2 separate regions of the Homo sapiens genome follow, and region 1 is linked to region 2. Evidence: fine-mapped expression QTL. A gene starts in region 2. The other region holds a variant in brackets. All regions are shown on one strand. Distances are between the middles of the regions. Region 1 holds the start of LOC124906214 (a long non-coding RNA gene). Region 2 holds the start of IQSEC1 (IQ motif and Sec7 domain ArfGEF 1).

Region 1 (8,508 bases), 63 kb before region 2:
GGGTCTGTGCTCTGGGCCGGGCTCTGACTGGCGGAGCCCCTGCAGCCTGGCCTCTCCTGACATGTTTGCAGTCAAAATCACAAAGCTCTGCTACCGGCGGGTATCTCTCTCCCCATTTTATAGATGAGGAAACAGATTCAGGAGCAGGAGACACTTGTCCAAAGTCGGTTTTGCTAGGCTTTGTCCTCCTCCAGGTCTTTTTGGCCCCCATCCCTGCAGTGGTAGGGGTGCCCCTAATTCACAAGGGTGGAGTGCAGGAGAGGAAGCTGGCAGGGGCTGCATGAGACTGTGGGGAGGGAATCACGTGTCTTCATGCAGACAGAGCCCAAGGCACTTAGGGTCGGGGGACAGAACCCCTAGGAAGAGGGTCAGGGGAGCTGCAGCAAGGACTCTGTCTCCAGCTGGTATGCGGGATCCAGACAGAGCAGGTGGGGCTGGCTCTGTAACTGGCCTGTCGGCCGTTCTAAACATCCAGAGAACTGAGTAGTGGGGACGCCAGCTGTGGGCCCAGCTGCCCCTGGGAGGAGGGCAGAGGCCAGCCTGGCTCTCTACCTGCCCCACCCACTGCACCGGTCCACCCTCCGTGTCTCTAAGGAAAGCTAGGTTCTAGGTCTCAATTCTGATGCTGCCACTTTCTGGCTGGCAAGGAACTTGCGCGAGTCACTTGGCTTGCCTCAGTTTCCCCCCCTGCAAGATAGGGCAGATATTCCTGTTGGACAGGATTTATTGTGAGAATGGAATGAGATCATAGTTGGGACCATACTCCTACACACATTAGAGCTTATCACCCATTTCGCACTTGAAAAACATCCCGTTTTCTTTGCTGCTGCTTGAAAGCCTCCGCAGGCCACCCACTCCTCACTTCTGGGTCTGCCTATCTCTGCGGTTTCTGTGCTTGCAGATGAAATGTAATTCTTGGCTGTTGGAAGTTTGGGGCTGAGCCCAGCCATCCCTCCCTGTCTCTGGGGCCCCACCCGTACCCCGCCCCAGAGTCCAGAGCCCCCAGCACGTCCAGCTTACCAATGGAGCCCACCCTTCCCCGGAGCAAGGTCACAGAATCCCCTGTCCTGTGGGAGGAGAGCTTGGTGATTTCTCAAAGTCCTTGCAGCTCTGACCTTCTAAGCCTGCACTCCTCTAGGAAGCCAGGTGAGAGAGCAGAGGAACTACCCTTCCATAAGCCCACCCCAGGAACCCCAGGGAGGGGCCAGGTGCCTGGCCTTCTGAGTGTCTGTACCTGAAGATGAAACGGGGTTACTTAGGTACTTCTTGGCAGTTCTGAAGTTCAGGACTGAACCTAGCTGCCTCTCCTGGCTATGTCCGTCCATTACCATCACCACCTTGTCACCCTCCGTCTGGGGTCTGAGGCCAAGCTGGACACCTCTCCTTCCCGCGTCGAAGCTCAGAGGTGAGCCTCAGCTGACCCTCCCTCCAGCAAATGTTTAGAGAATGAGGTAAGCATCCTCCACCAGTGACCGTCAGGCTGTCCACTGTCCAACCCAGACGTCCTCTCTGAGAGTGCTGCCATTAGTCTCCAAACCCTCTGTCCTTTGAGCCTGAATCCCCAGGGGGCTGTTCATACTCCTCTTCCCTCTGCCACCTGGCTGGCCCCCATCTTTGCTAGCCACCTCCTTCTTGCTCTCAGTTCCCCTCCTCAGGGAGGCCCTCACTGACCACCGCCAAGTCGCTCCCCACTGCAGCCTCCTGCTTCATTTTCCTGACTGTGATGTTGGAAATGCTCGTTTGTGTGTTTGTTTACTTGTCACCTCTCTGCCTCCCCCAACCCCCAAATGCCAGCTCTGTGAGGGAGGGGGTCTCACGCTGGTGTCCTCACTGCTTTGAGCGGTGCTGGGCACACAGTCAATATTAGTTGGTCGAGTTACTGATAGAACAACGCTCTTGATCCGGCTCCAGGGCAGAAAGGGGAGCTCACAGAGGAGGGGATATCCAGCTAACCCAGTGGGAACCAGACACGCTGGCAAACCCCATCCCACGGGCTAGGCTTTCAGTTAACCCTCTCATTCATGCATGAGGGGGTGCTTATTAAGCCATTTTCCAGATAAGGCAATGGAGGCCCAGAGAAGTGAAGTGACTTGCACAAGGCCACATGGCTTGTATGCTGCAGAGCTGGGTCTTGGCCTGGCTTTCTGAGATCGACAGCCCTTTTCCTCTCCAGGGTTCCAAGGCTGTGATTCCGAGAGATCACCACACAGGGAAGGAATCCTGACAGCCTGTGAAGTGCCTGGCACTGGGTCAGGTTATTTGCCAAGGTTTGTTCATGTGCCTGCTCTGTCTTCATAGGTCTATTTTACAGATGTCAAACTGAGGCCCAGAGAGGCCTGGTGACTCGCCCTAGGTCACACAGTGCGGTGACAGCCAATCCAGGACCGGTGCCCGGACTGCCACACCTCTCCATGTGGTGGCGGTGAAGCTAAATGGCCTGCTGCCTTGATTTCCCCTTTGTGCCATGAGGGTGTGGGCAGGCTGATTTCTGACATGGTGTAATGTCATCAGGGAGGCGGGACCTTGCCTGAGAAGCCTTAGGGCTGAAAAGGGAAGCGCAGAGTGGCTGTTTCCCCATCCTGCCCGCTCTCCGCCCTGGCCCTGAGCCAGGTGGGCGGCCAACTCCCTTTGACCACTTCCTGGGGTAACTCCCCCGGAAATGCCCCAGATGCCCGCAGCCCAAGTATAACTCCAACTTCCAGGCTCAGGACCCTCATCCCTCACCTCCTCCTGCCAAGATCACCCCAAGCAGAAACCAGTAGGCATAATAATTAGTATGTTTGTATATATATATGTGTGTGTGTGTGTGTGTGTATGTACTTTGCTGATTAGATATTTTATCAGATATCTTATCTATATAAGGAAACAACAACAAAAGTGAAGCTGACAGTGCGTTGAGAGCCGGGCTTTAGCACACCACAGCTCTATGTCTTAGGATCCCTCCTCTCTGCCAGTGTGGCGCCCGCCTCCTACTCCCATCCTCTGCCTCCAGTCTCCTCTGCCAGCCTGTCCTCCATCCAAGCTCCCTAGGCATCCTCTTCAAACTCTTTGCTGATTGCTGTAAGGCAGTGGAGCATGTGGTTAAGATTCTGGGCTTCAGGTCAAGCTGATTTGGGATTTGAGGACATTTGCTAACAGTGTGACCTTCGGCAAGTGACTGTGTCTCCCTAAGCCTCAGTTTTCTCATCTGCAAAATAGGGATCATAACAAACTCTACCTCACGGGGCTGACCCGAAGGGATGATGCATAGCAGAACACATGGCTCAGCTGGCCAGCCGGCAGGTCTTAGCAGGTCATAGTGGCGGAATGACCAGCCCACAAGTCTTAGCAGGTCGCAATGGTGGATGCAGGATGTTTCTGCCTGACCAGCCTCCATTCTCACTTCCGGTAAGACACCCCAATTTTCTTTGGGGAATCCAATCCTCCATTCTCAGTCCATCTAATTTGGGTCAGCTACCTCCAGGGGTGAATGCAGTACCGAGCTTGGTCTATCAGAGAGAGTAGTTCATCCCCCCTGCTCAAGTGACTGGTCCAGGGATGGGTATGTGGTCTAAGCTAACCATGGAGAGTCGATTCTGTCAGAACAGTTTCTGCCTGGATATGACAAATGTCGACCTGGAGCTGTTGGGGCCATCTGGGCAGAAAGGCTGTCCGGGAATGAAGTCAAAGAGATGGAA[A/G]AAGAGAAAAAGAGGCCGGCGTCTGGGGTCATGGTTTGAGCCCCCGAATCCAACTGTACCTGAAGCCCTGTCTGTTTCAGAAACAGAAGGCAATAAATTCAGCCTTTGCCTTAAGCCCGTCAAGCCAGTCTGGGGTGCCTCTTTTTTTTAATCAACCAAACAAATACTGGTTAATAAAACTCCCTGCTCAAAAGCTCCTGGCGGCTCCTTCATGCCTGCAGGGAGAGGCCAGCACCCTGGGCTCTGGGCCCCACTTGCCTTCCTTTTTGTCCTGAACTCTGGCCCTCATCCCTCCCAGACAGGTATCACCCAAGACTGCTGTTTCCCAAACACACCATGAAGACTCGACCTACAGTTTCTACCCAAACTCTCCTCCACTCCCCACTTGAGCAGTGCCTGCTCACTAGAGCTTGCCTCCTCCTGGAAGCCTCCCCACACTTCCTCCACCACTCTGAGTGTCAGTGGCATCTACCTCCAGCTTCCCATCACTCTGCTTATTTCCCCAGAGTGAAATTCACTTTTTTTTTTCTTTTTCCTCTTCAAAAAAACTTTGTCTCACTGTATCATTTAAGAAATGAACATCCTGGATTGACTTGGGATTTGACAAATTCAAACTTGGTTTTAACACACCATGTGCATTTCCTGAGCCCCAGGCGTACCAGCAGACACAGGGCTGAAAGACCCAGGGCCTACCCGCAGGGGCTTAGAGGCTGAACCAAACCGTTTCCCATTTGGCTCAAGACAATGGATGCAAAAATGACCATTTTTAAAATTTTAAATTCAAATTTATTTTACTTGGGGATAATCATCACTGACACTCACTGAGCCATTGCTAGGTCATTGTCTATGGGCAGGTCCATGCATAATGTTATTTAATCCTCACTCTGGGAAATGTTATCCTCACTTACAGAGGAGGTCACTGAAGCTCAGAGAAGTAAAGGGAGCTGCCCAGGGGGTTACAGCAACTGTAGGGAGCTGACCCTATATTCTAGCCCTTGTTATCCTCCCTGGCCTTTCTCAACTGTGTGCGAATACACTGGGGCCAGCTTCGAAGTCTTTTTAACATTCACTGTGTAAACTCGGCACCAAGCTAGCTTCCCCTGGTTGCTCACAGGCAGGTGGCTGTCCACACCCACTTCTGTGTGGGGGCCTCTGGCGTCACATTTCACACCCCTGTTCTGTAGGCATCGGGTTTCAGATTTGCTGTATTTGCTTCCGCTGCCACTACCGGTAGATCAGAAGCTGGGGAGGTGTTTCAACACATGATTGTTTTGAATATGGTGACTTCCCCATCTATCCCTGCCATGGGTAACATCCCAGCAGCCTCTTGATAGCAGAACAGAGGCCATTGAGCCTGGCCAATGAGTGAGTCTCAAATTCTAAGTTCGTGGGGGACTCACTTAAGAAGGGTGGTTTGTTCCAGCACCTGATCAGAACCTGTGGCTCATCCTCTGCAAAGTGGGCATGAGGCACCACCAGAGGCTGCGGAGTGGCCAGAATGAGGCAACATATGGAGGGGGTGTGGCACACGGTAGGTGTACACTAAGTGCTCATTCCCTCTTTTCCTTACAGCCTTGCTGCTGGGGCTACCTTTCACCCACATGCAGGCTTACTTGCCTGCACCCCCGGCATGGCCCAAGAACCAGTTCTCTGAGTTCAGCCAGGACTTCCAAGAACCTAGCACAGCCAGGTCAGCTCCACTGTGTATGAGTCCTGAACCCGACCCTAGGCCCCTGCTCCCTCAGTTGCCATTTGCCAGGCTACCTCCTCCATTGCTCCTAAAATCTAGCTCATCTGCCACCTCCTCCAGGAAGCCTTTGGGGAACTCCTCCAGATAAAAACTCCAGTGTCCCTCCTCTGGGCTCCCACAGGCCTCAGAGCTCACCCCCTTCTCAGCCCTGAGTGCCATGTGTAGTCATTTCCTCTTTTCTAGTCCCTTCTCCCACAGAGCACTGTGAACATCCCCAAGACAGAAACGATGTGTTGCTCACCACAGCCTGGGCCCTACAGCTGGCCTGTCACAGGGCTGGTGACGACCGAATGAAAGGAAATGCCTAATGTTTTCTGAGCACTTGCTACATGCCGGGCACAGAGCCAGGGATGCCCACATGGAGAGGGCCTGCCTCACAGTGAAGACAGTAGGAAGGAAAGCAGAGGTAAGAGTTGAAAAGTCCAAATCCATATATGAACACTGCGATTCCGCCATTCCCGAAGCTAGTTACCCTCCAGACTTTTCAGTTCCAGGAGGCAATGAAACCCCTTTTCTGCTTATGCCCGTTAGGTTTGGATTTTCTGTCACTTGCTACTAAGACAGCCCTCACTGACCAAGTGAAGCTCAGAGATGGGACCCAACACACCCAAGGTCACATAGCTACGAAAGCAGTGGAACAGAAACTCCCATGAAAGTCTGGGCTTTTTTTTTTTTTTTTGAGACAGTCTTGCTCTGTGTCCAAGGCTGGAGTGCAGTGGCACGACCTAGGCTCACTGCAACCTCTGCCTCCCAGGTTCAAGCGATTCTCCTGCCTCAGCCTCCCAAGTAGCTGGGATTACCGGCATGCGCCACCACGCCCGGCTAATTTTTGTATTTTTAGTAGAGATGGGGTTTCACCATATTGGTCAGGCTGGTCTCGATCTCCTGACCTCAAGTGATCCGCCCGCCTTGGCCTCCCAAGGTCTGGGCTCTTAACCACAGCCTGACCACACCCCAGGCCCGGCTGATAGCCACTTCAATGCTCCCACACGCTGAGTACAGTCCAGATACCCACTCTGCCGGCGGAGTCCCCTCACCTCTTTCCCAGAAGCCACTGGAGTTACACTGGTTGGGATTTTTGGGCATTGGTTTGCAAGTCCATCAGATGGGGCTAATGAGCTCACCCTTGCATGCAGGTCAGAGGACAGCTCACACTGGCCTAGCCCACAAGGGACTCAGGGAATGAAGGCCACAGTGTGGACCCTCCAACCTGCCCTCAGCTGCCTGATGGCCTACAGGTGTTTTCTAATAGGTGACATGTGTCCATTAAAATAAAATACAACCAACCGCTTACCCCTCCTTGCGCCCATCTCCTTCCTCTGCCCTACTCTCCTTCACAGAACATGTCATCCCCATGACCTATCATGCATGCATTGCGTTAGTCATATATTGCTTGACTCCCCAACACCAAGAAGGGAAGGGATGGTTTATCTGATTTATCACCTTTGTACTCTCAGAGACAAGACAGTACTTGGCACACAGTAGGTGCCCAATAAATGTTTGTTGAATGACTGAATTAACAAATGAATGATGTGCATGAAACTCTGCACAGAGTCATGGAGTGCTTAAAGGCTCCTGGTTACACCTGGCCATTTCACAGGTGAGGACATGAGGCCTCAGGATGGGCTCCCCTGAAGTCCCCAGGCAGGCAGCAGGGGCTCTGATCTGCTCTGTGCCTCTGCTGGGCTGGACCGAAATGGGCCTTGAACACAGGTGTGGGCAGCCACCTGGCCAGGCTCCCCAGCTTGAGCCCTGGCGCCCAACAAAGGCAGGTTGCTGCTGGAGGTAGCTGAGCTGGAGGCCAGAGCCCTGGGCTCTGAGCTGTAACCCCTGAACCTGACCTCTTGGGGTCCTTGGGCCAACAGCCCCTGGCTCACTGGGGTCATCAAGCCTCCCCTAACCAGCCTGAGGGGCACTGTGCCCTGGTAAATCTCTCAGTGAGATGGGAACCCAGAGTCACCTACGCCCACAGGGAGATTCCCCACAGAGGCCTGCTTCACCATCTAAGCCTCACAACAACCCCGGAAGGGAGGACTTTCGCTATGGGTTATATGGAAACCCAGGCCCAGAGATGTTGGGACATCTGTCCCATGTCACATGGCTGGGGCACACTGGGGAGCTGGGATTTGAGACAGAGTGACTGACCCCTCAGGGCACTGAGCAGCCTTCTGTCTGCAGCGTGGGGGCAGGGGTGAAGGTGCCCATTGCTTCCTTATCACTGGGCCTCACTTTTTCCATCTGCCACTGGTTGGGCTCCAGTCCTAAGGAAAGGGCTATCTGTCTTGCCTGCCCCCAAGAGCCAGGGCTGGGGTGGGGGAGGCTTGGCTGGGAGTGAGAGCTCCCAGGCTGCTCCCTGAGGCTGGGTCGGTAAAAGCTTCCTCTGACCCATCTGTTGAACTCCCTGATGACCCCAGTGAGCCAGGGGCTGTTGGCCCAAGGACCCCAAGAGGTCAGGCTCAGGGGTTACAGCTCAGAACCCAGGGAACATCCCCCAACACGCTCCCAGCCCCAGGGATCTACAGATCCTCAAGGTTCCACTCTGGATCATTTCAGAAAGATACTGAACTTGTCAGTGGGTCAAGGGGCTCCTGGGGGGACACATACTGGGCTACTGCCAGATGGGAAATGGCCCCAGCGAGCCTGGGGCAGGGAAGACTTCTGCAAGGCAGTGTCTCCTCAACACAGCCTGGGGAAGCCTTGTGTTCCCTCAGCCATAAACCTCCATTTGCTCAAAGTTTATGCACCATAGGGTTGAGGGGGGCAGCAGTGTGGGAAGGAAACACACCAAATATGCTCCAGGAGCCCTGGGCCACTGTGTGACTTCTGAGGGCCTCTGAGGACTTCTGACTTCTGTGTGACTTCTGAGGGCCTCAGTTTACTCGGCTGTAAACTGGGCATTGTCAAGAGTCCATCTTTCTCAGGGTGGTTGTGAGGGCCGTAGGCAGCGACCCAACACTCCCTGCCATCCAGGTGGGCTGCGGGGCCCTGGTTCTCAACCCTAATGGGGCCTGGGGCTGGTCTAACGCGCAGGGGAGCTAAAGAACTTCCCCTTGCGGCTGTGGGGAAACACCTGGTGTTCCT
Region 2 (8,508 bases):
CCAGTGTCCCTTCTTCTGTCTAGGGGAGACCCACCAGGGCTTCGCTTCCTTCATGAAGGCCCCACTGCAAGCAGCAGGTCAGGGCATCCCACCAGAGGGAGACCACTGCCTCCTGCGGGGGCCGGCAGGTCATCATGTCCCCCAAACAGAAGGAAGAGAGGGGTCGGGACAGTTCCAGGCAGTGAATGAATGATTGAACAGGCATGGGTAGGCGAGTGCTCCACTGGCCTGGCCAAGCAGCCCACATCTCACACACCACAAACTCCTCACAGCCTCACTTCCTGTGTTCAAGTGACAGGATGTGACATGCCCATGAGGACAGAGGGGCCCCTTGCAGAGATGATGAAAAGGATGCTGTAGTTACAGAATTGAGGGCCATCCTTCATTCAGACACCATTCATGAAGCTGCCAGTACAGCAATGACCTCAGGTGTTAGCAAGTTTGATTCAGGGTCTGATTCTTGGAAGCCTCCTGATGTTCCCCCATTGGGTTAAGAAATCTTCTCCTGCTTTTGTTGTCATCCTTTATCCCATCCAGTGTGCCACCTTCACGATGGACTGAGCCCTGACCGGGACAGAGTCTCGATTCCATAAAGCTCCCTTGGGTGCACACCAGGGGCCCAGAGAGTGGAAGTGGCGAAAATGGAGGCTAGGGAGTGAGGACAGTGGGGTGGGGGTGGGGGCCCGCCGGCAGGGCTCCACTAGGCTGAGGATAGCCTGGCTGTGCCATGCACAGGGCCGCTGGAGCAAGTCTGTCCCGATTTGACATGTGGCATGCTGGGGAAGGGACACCACTGCCAAATGTACGGCAGGAAACAGCTGTGTGACCCCAGTCAAGTTCCTTCCCCTCTCTGAGCCTCAGTTTCCTCTTCTGTAAAACGGGATCGACAGTATCACATTTTACAGCAGTTGGTGAGACCCCATGAGGCAACTAAGCATGAGAACGCTTTGCAATCAAGTTGGGCAGCTCTGATAGTGGCTACAGTGCAACTGTTGGGAAAGTTAAACATCTAGAGATGCTCAACACCCCATCTCCTTTCCACACTGAAAGGCAGGGTAACAATAAGGTCTGAGCAGCAGGTGCTGGGAGAGCCTGGGCCTAGAAGTGGGCCTGCCGCGGGTTCTGGGTGGGGAGTAATGGTGGGCAAACACAGGCTTATCAAGTGCAGCAGGGTAACCTCAGGAAAGGCCTGCTCTTGGTTACAAGATCCTTGCGTACAAACAGAGCCACCCCCTCCAAGTATCTTTGGTATTTCTGGTGCCAATAGGTTTGGTGGCAGAGCGGGGATGGCCTGGGAGTCACAATGCTCAGACTGGGAGCCTGAGAGCTGGAGAAGAGTGAAAAGACCCACAGAAAAGAAAGACAGTGAGCGCTAAGCCCCCTCGGGCCAGCCCCTCTCTTAGGCAGGAAGGCTAGACGAGCTTATTCCAGGAATCAGCAAATCCACCAGAGCCACGTGTTCAAATGCAGGTGGCTGGGCCCCCAACAGATTGAAGCAGACTCTCCAGGGAAGAGTATTGGAATCCATATAGAACATTGTCCCTGCAAAACTGCAATTGGATAGGCTTGGGCAACGCAGCCACAGTGAATAGCTGCATCACGGGAACATCAACCACACCTGGACATTAAAATCATCCGGAAAATGAAAAAGATCCTGAGGCTTGAGCCCTCCCCCAAACCTAGAAACCAGAATGTCTGGGGGTGGGACCCACACAGTTTTTTTTTGTTTTTTTTTTTTTGTTTGTTTCTTTAACTGCTCCTCAAGTGATTCCAGTATAGCTCCTGGGCTACAACCCCCACCCCAGGCTAGTATACTCCAGGGTTCCAGTAGAACTGTGCTGAGCCTCAGTTTCCCCATCTCTAAAATGGGGTTCTTAGTGCCTGCCCAGACAAGGCCTTTGTGAGGATGACATTTCTGAGCATTGGAGGCAAGCAGGCACTGGGCCAAGTAATCTGAATATGAATTGTCACATTTCATCCTCATGACATCTCCCCTCCCCGATGTAACAGCCCTGAGAGTTTAGAATTTCTCTGGCATCAGGCTCCTGGGCCCAGGCAAAGGTGTGGCAGGGAGGAGACAGCTGTCTCAGGAGGACCTATTCCCAGCCACTGGGGTGGAAGTTCCACGCTGGGAAAGGATTTACTATTTGTTTCAGAAAATGCAGCGAGGGCCTTGCCACAGGGAGTGAGAACTTTGGTGTGCTCTGCTCGCATCGACAAACCAACCTGTGAGCTTCTCCACTAAAAAAGCAAGTGAGCATCACAGCGAACCAGAGGCCACCGTCATCCCTCGAACCAGAGGCCACCGCCATCCCCCAAACCAGAGGCCGCCATCCCCCGAACCAGAGGCCACTGCCATTCCCTGAACCAGAGGCCACTGCCATCCCCCAAACCAGAGGCCACTGCCATCCCCCAAACCAGAGGCCACCGCCATCCCCCGAACCAGAGGCCACCGCCATCCCCCGTGGGTTGCCGCCTGGCACTGCTGACGCAGCAGAGGCAGAGGTGTGTTTACTTTCCCTCAGTGGAGGTGACGGGGAGCTGCCACTCTATCAGGGGTTCCACAGGCCCCTGCCATGGTAAGGGGCCTCCATCGATTAGGGAGGCCTTGGGGTAGCCCCCAGAAGGCTCCCCACATACTGCTCCAGGCCTCCTTTTCCTAGCCTTGCGACTGAGCCCAGCTCAAGAGGACTCAGCCATGCTCTCTAACCTCCTAAGGTCTGAGGTCACTGCACAGCCCCAAATGAGTGGGTCCTGGGCAAATAGTTTAGGCAGGTGGAGACCTGACGCTGGGCCTCAACCCCCGCAGCCGAGGGTCCCAGAGGAGGGCAAAGGTTGCTCCTCCTAGAACAGCACAGTGCAGCGCCCAGAGAGCTGTGAGGGAAGCTGGCATTCGAACCCCACTGCCCCCTGGGAAGCCTGGCTAACCGAAGCGCAGGCTTTGGTTTCCATAAATACCCGGGCCCGTGATGTCACCGCCCCGTGCAGACTTTCACAGCCTCTGCTGCTGGCGTGAGGCCCAGCACACAGCCGCTCTGCTGCCAGCCCACAGAACACCTGGGCACACAGCTGGACACTGATGCCTCCGTGCTAGGGACGGTGGGCTGGACCTTCACCTGCCCTTGGAGGACGCAGCATCCTGGCCACTGCCTCAGCCTGCCTGCGACCTTCTATCAGGCATGGCTGAAGGGCTGGCCATGGGCGTGCTGGGCAGAGATTCTCTTCCTAAACAGGCTATGGGCTAAACCAAAGCCAAAACAGTAGGAGCCGGTCTGGGCACCCTGAATGTGGATCTGGGAGGGGGGATACCTGCTCTCACAGTTGGGAATTTCACAGCCTGCTGAAGACCTGCTGACTAATAGCCTTTTTCTCATCGTCATCACCAACAAACACCTCCGCTGCAGGGGCCGAGCGCCGGCATCCCTGCTGGGTGGCCAGCTCCCTCTGCAAGTCACCTGCACATCCACCTGCCCCTCCCCCAACGATGCCCCTCACTCCAGCTCCCAGCTCAGCCGGGCCCCTCTGGCCTCTGGCTTCAGGCAGAAACCTGCCACATATACTCACAAATAGCGTCTTCTGCAAGCCATCCTGTGTGAATCCGTTCTTCCCTGTTCTGGCTCCCTCTCCAGCGGGGAGGCTCAACGTGTTTCCAAGAGGAGCAGGCGGCTCAGGCAAGAAGTGGAGGGGAATAAAATTAAATCGCGGGGCGAGTCACATTCCCGGGGGTGGCGGGCTCCTCCAGGGAGGCTGGGGCGGGAGCGGGGGGCGGCGCCAGCAGCGGGCTGTGGAGGGCCCTGGCACGTAGCGCGCGCTCACACCGTGCCCAGGAGCGAGCGAGGACGTCGAGTAACCGTGGTCGCCAGGCTGGGCGGGGGCGTCCACCTCGCTGCTACCTGGGCCCACCTTGGGGTTTTTCCCTCCCGTCCATCCGGGGTGCGGGGCGCGGGGATGAGGAGGGGAGGGTCGAGAGAAGGCTGCCCCGGGTTTGCTCTCGCAGCATCCGGAGAAGGGGCGGGCGCGCCGGAGCCTCCCCCACCCCCCGCGCCCAAGGAGCAACGTAGTGCGGCCGCGCCGGACCAATCGCCGAGGCGCTGGTCGCCATGGCAACAGCAGCATCAGGCGCGGCCGCTCGGCTGCGCCCTCGCGGCAAAGTCACACACCCGGCGGGGCGCGGGGCGCCGGCCCCTTCCTGGCCCGCGCTGGAAACCTGGAAGTCTGTTGCTAAAATGCACGCGCCGCGCGGAGCCTACGATGACACTACTTTCCAAGGCGGCTTTTCTGCCTTCGGCACTGAGACACGCGAGCCGCGGAGCTCTCGGGGCTCTGGCCCTGGAGTGAGGCCGGCCGACTCCAAGGCTGTCTCTGCCACTGAAGGGCGATGAGACCTTGGCAAGCCGCGTCTCTCCTGGGAGTCTTGATTATGCTACTGTGAAAGGGATCATAACAGCTATACCACGGGGTTCCAGGAGGGCGCACCACGCCAGTAGCTGCACGGTGGATGGCAGAGCAGTCCTCGTTTGTGCCAGTCCTGTCCCAAAGGGGGCTGCACGTGGCTAGGGAGAATTTCTGGTCTAGCTATGGTGCCTCTTCCTCTCCCGAGGACCTTCCATGTGCCGGGCAAGTATCTGCCCTCATGATGTTTACAGTCTAAGGGGAAGCCAGGAAGTAAGTGTGCAGATATAGGATTGCACGTGGTGATAAGGATCAGGATGAAAAGAGAGCAGGAAGAGGGGAGGCAGGGACCCCAAGAGAGGCGGGAAGGAGGCTTCTGCCATCAGACGGGGTGGTCGGGAAGGCCCTCTGTGAGGCACGTGTGGCTGAGACTCGGATGACGCAAGAAGCAGGGGAGGAGCTGGCGTCAAGGCTCTGAGGCGGAAGGCAGCCTGGTGTATTTGACTGGCCCAGAGGAGGCCAGCGTGGTGCAGTGTGCGACAGGGAGGTGGAGGGGAGAAGCGCACATCCATCCTCGGCTCCCACACCCGCCTTTCCCACACAGATTTCTCTCTTCCTGTCTGATGTTCATCTGATCCTCTCTGCTTCCTCATCTGTAAACCAGGAATCCCAGACCTATCTCAGAGGCATGTAGATAATATTCTTCCGTGCACGGTAATCCTCAAGACAACCCCAATGAGGCCTAATACTATCATCCTACTTCACGGGGGAGCGCATTAAAGCCAGAGGTTCAGCAACTGGCCCAAGCCACATAGCTGGCGGGCAGTCTGGCTCCAGAGTCTTGGTTCTTGACTGCTTGAAAGCTGCCTCACTGGGAGGAATAAATGAGAGAGGGAGTAGTTGAGACTGGGAATCGGCTGGATGTGGATGGCAGCCCACAGGGCCATTTCCCTTCCTCTTTCCATTCTCTCCAGATTCACACTCACCGAATTTAGAAGGAGTGATGCTGCATCCTTGAGTTCCATTCCATCCTTTACAGGGGAGGAAATGAACCTCAGGGGGTGAGCGATTTGCCTAAAGTTGCACAGCAAAGAGTGGCAGAGGTGGGACTAGGACCCCAGTCTTCCAGCTCAGTGTCCTGGTAGGGAGCAGAGGTTGGAGCTGCGGCCTCAGGTGGCCAAGGTGAGGCATCGAACAGAACTGCATGACGCTTCCCGATCTGCCCTCTCCAGGTGAATCCATATGCATGACCAATCTTCCTGTAGCACGGACCTCCCTCCCTGAGTCATGTGAGGAATTCATATTTCTGTGGGTTAACATGTTGCAGAGCCCACCCCACCCCTCTCCTCACTGGAGTTTCAAAAGATTTTAATAACATCAAAATTCAGCCACTGCATCAGGAGGGCTCACTTTGTGTCAGGTCCAGTTGTTTCATGGTCTCAGTGAATTCTCAGAAGCGCCCTACGAAGTGAACATAATTACCACTCCTGCTTAGATGGGTTGCACCACATACGGGGGTCTCCCATCAAGGCAGCAGCAGAGCCCAGACTAACTCACAGCCTGGCTCGGGCTAGAGCAATGCCCCTCTCAGCCGCCTTGCTCAACTAGCGATTCTCTTCTCACTTCCATCTTCCAGAGGCGGAAACAGGCTCAGAGTGGTGAATTGGATGCCTTGAGTGTGGAGCACCCAGTGTCCCTTTCCTGGGCTTCCTCTTTTGCTCCCTGGGAGGCCCATGACATGCATCTGCACATCCGTTGCTTCTTCAGCACTTCTTCTTATAAACGTACTCTCCTTTTCCTTCCATGTTATGCTGTTATTTCAAAGCAGAGGAAATGGCAAGGACCCTGGCATTCAGATACAAATGCCAAGATTTTAGGCTTTTACAAAACATCATTTACAGGGCACGTGGGTAGTGCCTACAACCCACCTGCACTGGCGCGGTTTTGATTTCTGACATTCAATATCCAGCGCCGGACCAGGCACAGAGGAGGCTCCAAAAAGCGTGGAGCTGGGATTCCGACTCTGATCTCTGACTACGGAACCCACAAGTTCATCCCTTCAGGCAGTGAGAGGTCAGAGAGTCTCAGAAAAGGGGCGCGCCCACCTGTGCAGGCTGAGCTTCACCTACCTCATGACCCCAAGCCCTCGACATCCAATCTCAGGGCAGATTTGTCAGCCACACCTCCCAGATGCAAAGCCTGTGGTCGTGAGAGGGTCCTGATCACATAAGAAGTGGAGCTACAGAACTCTGGATGGAATTGTCCACTTTCCTCACTTTCGCAGTTGTAACCAGATGTCTGGAGTGGGAAGCAGGGGCAGCCAGCCTTGGGGTTGCTGCCCTGTGACCCTGGTTATATCACAGAATCATCCACCCACTCACCCACCTCTGCAGGCTGGAGACTAAGGCACAGTGGGAACCTAGCATTCAGACAGCGTTTTCATCCCCTGGAGTTTCTGTAAGTGCCCAAGTTCACCCCTGCCCTTGCCTCATCATTGTGGACTGTGGGAAGCCGCTTGGATCAGAAGGTGAGAGCAGCTGCCAAGGGGTAAGTCCAGAAACATCTCACATCCATCTCCCTTCCCTCAACGGGAAAATTTCCACCCTGCAGGCTGGCAGGAACATTCCTGCAGATCGGCTCACTCCTGCAACCTGCGGCCATCTGTCCCCAAGGTGGGAGGAACATGACAGCATTTGGGAAGAGGGAGGACGGAGAAGGTTGGAGCATGCAGTCCACAGATCTGACAGTCACAGAGCTCTTCAAGGCAGGGAGCCCCGAATCCCAGGGATTCAGGATCTTCATCCAGGGCTGGGCAGAAGTGAACCCCCCACCCCCGCTGCTCCGTTCCAACTGTGGAACTGCAAAGCCGTCAACACTCTGACTCTAAATCTCAGGACCACACAGTCTTCAAGTCTGGGGACTTTATTTTCTTTTAGCTGAAGCTTCACATTTTAAAGAAATGAAATCCTAACTGCACAAATGATAAGAAAATGTATTCTCTTTAAACAAAATAAAGCCCCCTTTACCTCCCACCCTCCTAAATCTTATTCCCCGTTCCAATCTCTGCAGAGGTGACCGCTGTCATCTGTTTGGAGTGGATCCTTCCAGAACTTTTTCTATGCATTTATCTACATATATATGCCTATAGAAAATAGGAAGTATTACATAGACCCTAAAAAAAATGGCATCATTTTACAAATTTCTTTCTTTCTTTTTTTTTTTTTTTAAAGACAAGGTCTCACTATGCTGCCCAGGCTGGAGTGCAGTGGCTTTCACGGGAGCAACCATAGCACACTACAGCCTCAAACTCCTGGGCTCAGCGATCTTCCTGCCTTAGCCTGGGACTATAGGCATGCACCACCAAACCCAGAATATTAAGAATTTTTTAATAAAAGATTTAAAATGTGCCAAAAGGCATAAAGATGAATACCGTGAACTCTGATATACCCCTGACCCACTACAAGAAACAGAACATGACGAATATGATGGAAGCCCAGGGTCACCACCTCTGTTAAATCCCCTCGCCAGCCCTGCCCTCCTCCCATCCCCATGGTGAATTCACTCTGTAGTGAATCTCCTGCATAGAGAGGTATCCACAAACCATATAAACACTTGTGCACGTTTTTAAACTTTACATAAGTAGGATCACATTGCATATCTTTTTCTGCAACTCTTTCCCCACTCGGCATTATGTCTGGAAGACTGAATCATGGAATCTCTAAACCACAGACTCTTCCATGCTGAGTTCCCAAATCACAGGCTTTTCTAATCATAGACATGGGCTCGGGCTCTGGTGCTGGGAGGACCTCGCTGGCAGGCTCGTGCAGGGCCCTCCTAACATCTCTGCCCAGCCCCACCCCTCACGTGCAGGTGGCTGACGGAGGGAGGAAGCAGCCGGAAGCAATTATCTCTGGAAATGTGTGTGGGCTTCTGGAAGCCTGGCAAACACCTCCCTCTGCAGCAAACCAAGTATCACTGAGGTGCCCTGTCCCCTGTCTTGGGGGAGAAGATCAGACCCTGGCCCTATAACAGTTGAGCAGCAGTCCTTGATATGCTCCTGAAATGGAGCACATCCACTGCTTCTCGATGCTATTTTGGAGTCCTGGCTGATGGAGA

What was found.
Region 1: its variant is fine-mapped to the expression of IQSEC1 in whole blood (TOPMed, PIP above 0.99).

Annotation. Positions count from the first base shown.
Region 1 is chr3:13,006,875-13,015,382 of GRCh38, forward strand. The region is part of intron 1 of IQSEC1 (IQ motif and Sec7 domain ArfGEF 1); the gene reads right to left. It overlaps LOC124906214 (a long non-coding RNA gene), which reads left to right and starts at 2,716. Exons shown (of 2, transcript XR_007095821.1): 1 at 2,716-3,387; 2 at 3,583-3,870. RefSeq lists enhancers at 2,272-2,321, 2,362-2,431, 2,692-2,761, 5,400-5,559, 7,009-7,510 and 3 more. The variant A/G (reference allele first, on the strand shown) is at 3,678.
Region 2 is chr3:13,069,428-13,077,935 of GRCh38, forward strand. IQSEC1 (IQ motif and Sec7 domain ArfGEF 1) reads right to left here and starts at 4,002. Exons shown (of 14, transcript NM_001134382.3): 1 at 3,565-4,002. The coding sequence starts at 3,587. RefSeq lists enhancers at 315-394, 405-574 and silencers at 3,918-4,077, 4,198-4,377.